Linked DNA regions of Homo sapiens. The protein of the gene in region 1 purifies or fractionates together with the protein of each later gene. This does not show direct contact. Each region holds a gene or a part of one and is shown in the gene's direction. Other genes may lie near its edges. The genes, in order: ABLIM3 and MNAT1.

Region 1 (3,824 bases):
TTTGGGAGGCCAAGTTGGGAAGATCACTTGAGCCCAGGAAATTGAGACCAGCCTGGACAACATAGCACTTCTTCTCTACAAAAAAATTTTTAAAAATTATCTGGGCATGATAGTGTATGCCTGTAGTCCCAGCTACATGCAAGCCTGAGGCAGGAGGATCCCTTGAGCCTGGGGACTTGAGGCTGCAACAAGCCATGATCACACCACTGCACTCTAGCCTGGGTGAGAGTGAGCCCCTGTCTCAAAAATTTAAAAATTTAATAAAAGGATGACTCGTTCGCTACTCTCAAAGAAGTCTTCATTTAGAAAAGAAGGTAAGACACAAATACGACTATAACCAAGTGGGCAGTGATCCATCCCCACAGGAGAGGAGTGTTCAGAGACCACAAAGGCAGCAGAGACCACTTTCAGCTGATGTGGGGCTTAGCTTAAACGAGACTGTTTCCATTGAAAAATAAGATTAAAAAGAAAGAAAAGTGGCTTTTCTTTTTTAAAAAAAAAATGCCTTAAGCCAGGCTGAGTGGGGTGCACATGCCGGAGCTGATCTTTTCTGTCTTTTGACAGTGCCCCGAGCCAGAAGGTTCTCGTCTGGAGGAGAGGAGGATGATTTTGACCGCAGCATGCACAAGGTGGGCAGAGACCACAGCACTGAATATGATGCTTAGAGCGTATATCACTGAGGGTCTTTTCATTTACAAGCAACAAAAAACAGATTCAAGCCCACTTATGATAGAAAAAAGAAAAGCATAGCTTTGCATAACTGAAAAATCAAATGGTGGAATTAGCTTAAAGTATGACTAGATCCAACTGCTCAAAAAAATGTCATAGGAAATTTGTCTCTTCACTTCTGGGGCTTGCCTCTGCATTGGCTTCATGCTCAGGCAAGCTATTTTCACATAATGGTAAGCAGGTGCTTGCAACCCTTGTTCATTGCTGGTGAAACCCTTGTTTCAGCCCCTGTGGAAAACAATTTGGTGGTTCCTCAAAAATTAAACATAAAATTACCACATGATCCAGCAATTCCACTCCTAGATATATACCCAGAAGAATTAAAAACAGGACTTAAACAAATACATATATACTCATATCCGTGGCAGCACTATTCACGAAAGCTAAAATATGGAAATAATCCAAATGTCCATCAGCTCATGAATAGGACAAAATATGGTATGTCCATACAGTGGAATATTATTCAGCCATGAAAAGAAATGAAGTAATGATACATGCCACAATGTGGATGAACCTTGAAAACATTATGCTTAAGAAAAGAAGCCAGACACAAGGTCGCATATTGTGTGATTCCATTTCCATGAAATATGCAGAATAGGCAAATCCATAGAGACAGAACATAGATTGCTGGTTCCCAGGGGCACGGGGAGAGGGGAATGGGGAGTGAGTGCTTCATGGATATGGGATCTCCTTTGGGGGAAATAATGGTATTTTGAAACGAGATAGAGGTGGTAGTTCCACAACATTGTGAATGCACTGAATGCCACTGAATCATTTCCTTTAAAATGGTTAATTTGAAGTTAAGTAATTTTCACCTCAGTTAAAAAGAAAAAGGTGGCTATCTGCCCATTGTTGAATCAATCACTGTGCCAAGACAATGGGATCCTGTCACTGGCCAGGCTTGCTTTTTTGTGCCCACCACCAGACCCCCACCCAGACCACAGGACAACTTGTGGAAGACAAGATGAGATTGCAACAGGAAACATGGGTGCCACAAGGTGGGAGGGACGCTGGGAAGGCAAACATGAGAGCAGGCTGCTATGGAGGATGTGATCCTCAGCCTTGCCCAAGCCCGTTCCATCTCAGTGTCCTTTGTTTTCCTTCTAACTTTATCTTGCTCTTCCCCGACCCTCAGCTCCAAAGTGGAATTGGCCGGCTGATTCTGAAGGAAGAAATGAAGGCCCGGTCGAGCTCCTATGCAGATCCCTGGACCCCTCCCCGGAGCTCCACCAGCAGCCGGGAAGCCCTGCACACAGCTGGCTATGAGATGTCCCTCAATGGCTGTAAGCATGGCTCTGGAAGCCCAACGGGGCGGGGACACCTTTCTCTGTGACTAGCTGGCAGTGTCAGCTGTTTGCTCTGAGCCAGGCTCCCTTGAGGCACAGCCCATGCATCCTCTCTCTTCTTCCTCACAGCAGCCCTGTGGTGGGTGACTTGCCCAAGATCACTCAATTTATCAGTAATGGAGCTTACTTCATCAGCTTCCTTGCCTGCTTTTATAAATTAGGTTCTATTGGAATGTAGCCAGCCCCGTCTCAATCCCCTGGGCTAACAAAAGAATCAGAAGAGGCTGGCCACAAAGGTTAGCCCCAAACCCTGCAATGCCCCTTCTGGGAGCTTCATTGAGGTCTAGAATACAGATTTGGAAAGGCGCTCTATGGGGCACTATGTAAGACCATGCTGCCCTGAGCAGTCACTCCCATTGCTTTGGGGCATCTGAAGCTCTGACTTCCAGTCAGATTCAGTATAAAGAAAAATGGCTTGGCTGGGCGCAGTGGCTCATGACTGTAATCCCAGCACTTTAGGAGGCCGAGGCGGGCAGATCATGAGGTCAGGAGATCAAGACCATCCTGGCTAACATGGTGAAACCCGGTCTTTACTAAAAATACAGAAAATTAGCTGGGCATGGTGGTGGGCACCTGTAGTCCCAACTACTCGGGAGGCTGAGGCAGGAGAATGGCGTGAGGCAGGAGGCGGAGCTTGCAGTGAGCCGAGATTGCACCACTGCACTCCAGCCTGGGCAACAGAGCGAGACTCTCTCTCAAAAAAAAAAAAAAAAAAAAAGAACGATGTCTTATAATCATCGGAATGGCTCAAAGATGTAAGGGATGGCCTCCTGAGGTAGTGAGTCTACCATGATTTGAACTTATACAAGCAGGGGCTTTATTCAAATACTTCTTGAAAATCTCATTGCAAGCTCCTCCTATTCCTGGACACACACACACACACACACACACACACACACACACACACTCTGTCTGCCTCCTCCTTTTCTTACTCCTGTGAGATGCAGTCCTGCCAGGAAATCTCATCTCGGATCAATACATTATGGATAATAAAATGCACCATTTATTACACTTCTATGTGCCAGGCATTTGTAGGAATGTTACACTCCTGGTAGAGCTGCAATGTAGAGGGATTATTATCACCCACTTTATAGATGAGAGAACTGAGGTTAAGCCACTTGCTCCAAGTCAAAAGCCAGTAAGTGACTGAGCCAGGATCAGACCCAAGTTGGAGTGGCCCCAAGGCCATGAGCTCTTCCCTCTTCCCCATACTACACCTTGACTCTCAGTGAGATTGAAGATGTTGGTGTTGGCGGCAATATGATAAAGCCAGTCTTATGGAGTGTTATAGATGCGTCAGGCACTATGCTAAGTATCTTACTGTATTGTGTCACATATTCTTCACAATAATCCTACAAAGGAGGCACTATCACTCCCCATTTTGCAGATGAGAAAACCAAAGCGTGATTAATTAGATTGTCTGAAGTTAGAAATCTACTAATGGCAGAGCCAGGATGAACTGCTGAGCCTGTTTTCCTGCCTGACCACTGAGGGCCACTGTTTCCAAGCCCTGGCTGCGGGGTCTGTGCAGTGCACCAGTGCTGTTTGCAATTCAACCTTGTTCAACCACATCTGTGCAACAAATATCACAGAGCACCTGCCCTGTGCCAGGTGCCAGGCTGGGAGCTGGACAGGGAAGGGAGATGGGGTGCAAGTGCAACAATTAAAAACTGACCAGTTCAGGAGGGGCTGCAGGAGGCCCCTTTTCCCAGCCAGCCAGGGGGATCGGGTATGGAAGCCACATCTCTT
Region 2 (3,824 bases), on another chromosome or scaffold:
CTTATCATTTTTAAGCCTCATCCCCACTCTAATTAGATTATTACTTTATTTAGGGCTCTTATTTCTATTCTTTCTTTTTTTTTTTTTTTTTTTTTTGAGATGGAACCTCGCCCTGTTGCCCAGGCTGGAGTGTAATGGTGTGAACTTGGCTCACTGCAACCTTCATTTCCTGGGTTCAAGCGATTCTCCTGCCTCAGCCTCCCGAGTAGCTGGGATTACAGGCATGTGCCACCATGCCTGACTAATTTTTTGTATCTTTAGTAGAGACAGGGTTTCACCATGTTGGCCAAGCTGGTCTCGAACTCCTGACCTTGTGATCCACCCGCCGTGGCCTCCCAAAGTGCTGGGATTACAGGTGTGAGCCGCTGCGTAGGGCTCTTATTTCTTATCTGGGTTATTTGAATATACTTCTAACTAGTCCTCCTATTGTCAGTCTTGAACCCAATTGATCTTTATGTATACCTTACTGCCTCTAGTCATCTTTCTAAACTCATCCCTCAAATTCCCTTAATATGTTCCCAGTGGCCTTAGTATAGCAAAATTCCACTAGTATGGTATAACAGAATAGTTGTTTTATTTAATAGTAACGTGTCTACATGAAATAAAGTAAATTCTATTTTCTTCAATATGGAATTGCTACATTATTAAATAATAAGTGACTAGTGTGTTTTATGCTTCCAATAAAGAAAGTATTAGAGTGTGGTATATGATTGCTCTTGGCTCCTAAATTTATTCCACGCCATATATAAATTTTTGTTTTAGACTCGAGAACAGGAAGAACTGGAAGAAGCTTTAGAAGTGGAACGACAGGAAAATGAACAAAGAAGATTATTTATACAAAAAGAAGAACAACTGCAGCAGATTCTAAAAAGGAAGAATAAGCAGGCTTTTTTAGATGAGCTGGTATGTATTAATGCTAATTGTGATTGTAAAAAACATTCTTCAGGATTTACCTTTCCTAGTAGGCTGGATGATGGCATTTAAAGGGCTTTTCCACAGTGTTTGTAATCTGGTTCACCTTTAGTTTTGTTGGTTATGTATTGATATCAGTGTATTTATTGCTGAATAAGAGGTTGCCCTCCATCCACACTGAACAATATGTTTTTATGCTCACAATTCTGTGGGTTAGGAATTTAAGTGGTTCTTTTGGGCTTTTCTGCTTCCCTAATGTATTCTCAGGACACCTCTCCATGTGGTTTTGATAGCGACAGGAGGCAGCCAAATGCCTAGGCAGATAGGGACGGGTACCCAGAGAAACCCCATCTCCATGTTGAAGACAGTTTAAAACCTGAAAGCCAAGCTACAAGTTAAATCCTTGGACCAGATTGAGAACTTGTCCTCCTGTTTGGTGTGCTTTCCTCTGATTGATCCCCACTCTTCACCTATTTTATGTATATCTACCCTTTCCTAATTGGTTTTCTACACTGTCATGCCCATCTTTGAGTAGTGTCTTCACTTCAACCTTTTTTGCTTACTCATAAGCTAATTCAGCACATTCTCCTCATCCTGTGCCTATAAAGACCCCAGACTCAGTAAGTAGAGGAAGAGACAACCTGACTTCGGGGAAGACGACTTGCTCTTCCTGTCCCCTCTCCAGCTCCCCTCTCTGCTAAGAGCTGTTTTCATCGCTCAATAAAATTATCACCTTCGCCATCTTTTAACCATCCCTGTGACCTCATTCTTCTTGGATGCCAGACAAGAGCTTGGGACCCACCAAGTGTGGGTACCCAGAAAGGCTGTCACACTGGCACTTTGCCCTTCCTGGTGGAGAGCAGCTGCCCTAGGTGACAAGGCCAGAAGCCAACTGAGCTGCCAACACACTGTTGTCTGATGGCAGAACTAAAGGAGCACTGTAACACTTCCCCTGGGGCTTTGGGGTTGTGGGCCCCCTCACCTGGGCACTGCCATGTTCCCCTTGAGGCAACATGCCTGGTCTGGCTGTGGGCCCCACGTAGAGTTTGCTTCTGTGTCCGTGCCTGGGGCGGATGGCTGGGTCCTGCACTTGCTTGCTTGTGTCTGGTCTGACTGCGGGCCCCATGCAAAACTTGTTCCTGTATTGGTGCTTGGAGCAGCTGGCTAGATCTGCGCTGACTCACCCACGTGCTCCCTCCCACATAGAGTTGAGTGCAGTGGGTCTAGTAGAGGGGAGTCCTTACCGTGAATCTAGTGAAGGGGCTGACTACATCAGAAACTGCATCAATTTCTGTAACAGTGTGATTGTACTTCTCACATGTTGGCTCAGGGTTACAAGAGAGAATATCCCAAGAATAAGGAGGTAGAAGATGCTAACATTTTAGGGCTTGGGCTAGGAAACTGGCACAGCACTGATTCCACCATATTAGTAAAAGAGCCCACTCAGTTACAAAGGGAATGGATATAGATCTCACCTCCTAATGGGAGTGTGATGGCCATCTTTAGTCCACACAGTATGTACTGGGGAAAACTATGTTTTTCTAGAATTTGGCATAATATAAATTCATTTGGGATACTCAGTCTCTATCCCAATGTGAGTTTAGTGATAAGAATTATGAAAATGACTTTCATTTTCATATTGTAGTTTGTCTTACCCTTATGCCTATTTATTTATATCATGCCAACTACTATGAAGGATTTAAAGTGATTTCCTAGATAAGAGTATTGTTTGTGGACATGGCACTACTTACTTTGTGTAACTCTAAGAACGATGTTAAAATGAGGTTCTAGTATATTTTACTTCTATATTTTTAAAAAGATTTTTGTTTAATATCCATTTTATTTTCAGATGAGAGAGTGACATTATAACTGAGATGAGCCAGTATATTCTTGATAGATTGTTTATATGGCTTTAAGCTAACTGACTAAAATACATTGTTTCTGAAGCACTTTTCTCCTGATTAATACTATTTTTCTAATAATGAGCTCATTTTGGCTCCATGCTGAAGTTTATATTGACTGTTTACTTTGTGACAATATATTTTATATTTTTGCATAAAAAAATAGTGTATTTTTGCTTGAAAGAAATAGCGGGGTTTTTGCAAATTATTGTTTTCCAGCAATTAGCTTCCTAGGTAGTCAACCTTGTTAGATAATGACAGTAATAATAACTAAGGTTTATGAAGTGTTTCATGGATTTATTACTATATTATTTGATACTTATAACCCTGTATGATATTGATGACTTCACAAACCGGAAAATCTTCCTCTCCAGGAAAGTCTTTTTGCATTCTTCTCTTTCCCTTTATGTTCATATAATTTATTTCCCTGAGGCTTTTGTGTTTGTGTGTGTGTGTGTGTATGCAGTGTTAATACACTTAACTTTCTTGTCTAGTTGATAATGCTATTATCCTATGATTGGGGAAAATATGTATATATGTGTTCTTCTACTGTGCTTTTGCCAAAAAAGCATTTAAGTCAGTTAACCAGGAGTAAAAAAAGAGAAAGCAAGATTACTTAAATTATAAGGAGGTGAGAAACTAAAGGAAAAATAAGGGTAAGGGCATTCATGAGGCTTAGATAGAAAACACTGTCATAAAACTCTATTTTCTATGACTGGAATGTGAATTTGGCTCTAAAAATGAGGACACCAGCATATTAAATAGAATAATGACGCCTTCCCTAGCAACTTTCATTAGTTCTTTCTTGAAACTATTAAGTGGCAGGTATGGCTTTAACAGTGAAATGACATGTTGTATTTTATATTTTTGTAGCTGTTTGGTGAGAAATTAAAAACTTTAAAAATGAATTAGTAAATTGATGTTACTAATTATTAGTATATAGTTACTAATTATAATTGTTTTATTGAAAGATTCTTCCCCTTATCATTTTATACAAAGAGTTACAGGCTC

Evidence for each region.
Region 2: the proteins of ABLIM3 (region 1) and MNAT1 purify together in Homo sapiens (affinity purification with mass spectrometry; one large-scale study listed by BioGRID and IntAct). This does not show direct contact.

Annotation. Positions count from the first base shown.
Region 1 is NC_000005.10:149,245,918-149,249,741, forward strand, and holds part of ABLIM3 (actin-binding LIM protein 3), read left to right. Parts: intron 1-564; coding exon 565-629; intron 630-1,864; coding exon 1,865-2,012; intron 2,013-3,824. UniProt on the Homo sapiens protein: May act as scaffold protein. May stimulate ABRA activity and ABRA-dependent SRF transcriptional activity.
Region 2 is NC_000014.9:60,811,225-60,815,048, forward strand, and holds part of MNAT1 (CDK-activating kinase assembly factor MAT1), read left to right. Parts: intron 1-762; coding exon 763-903; intron 904-3,824.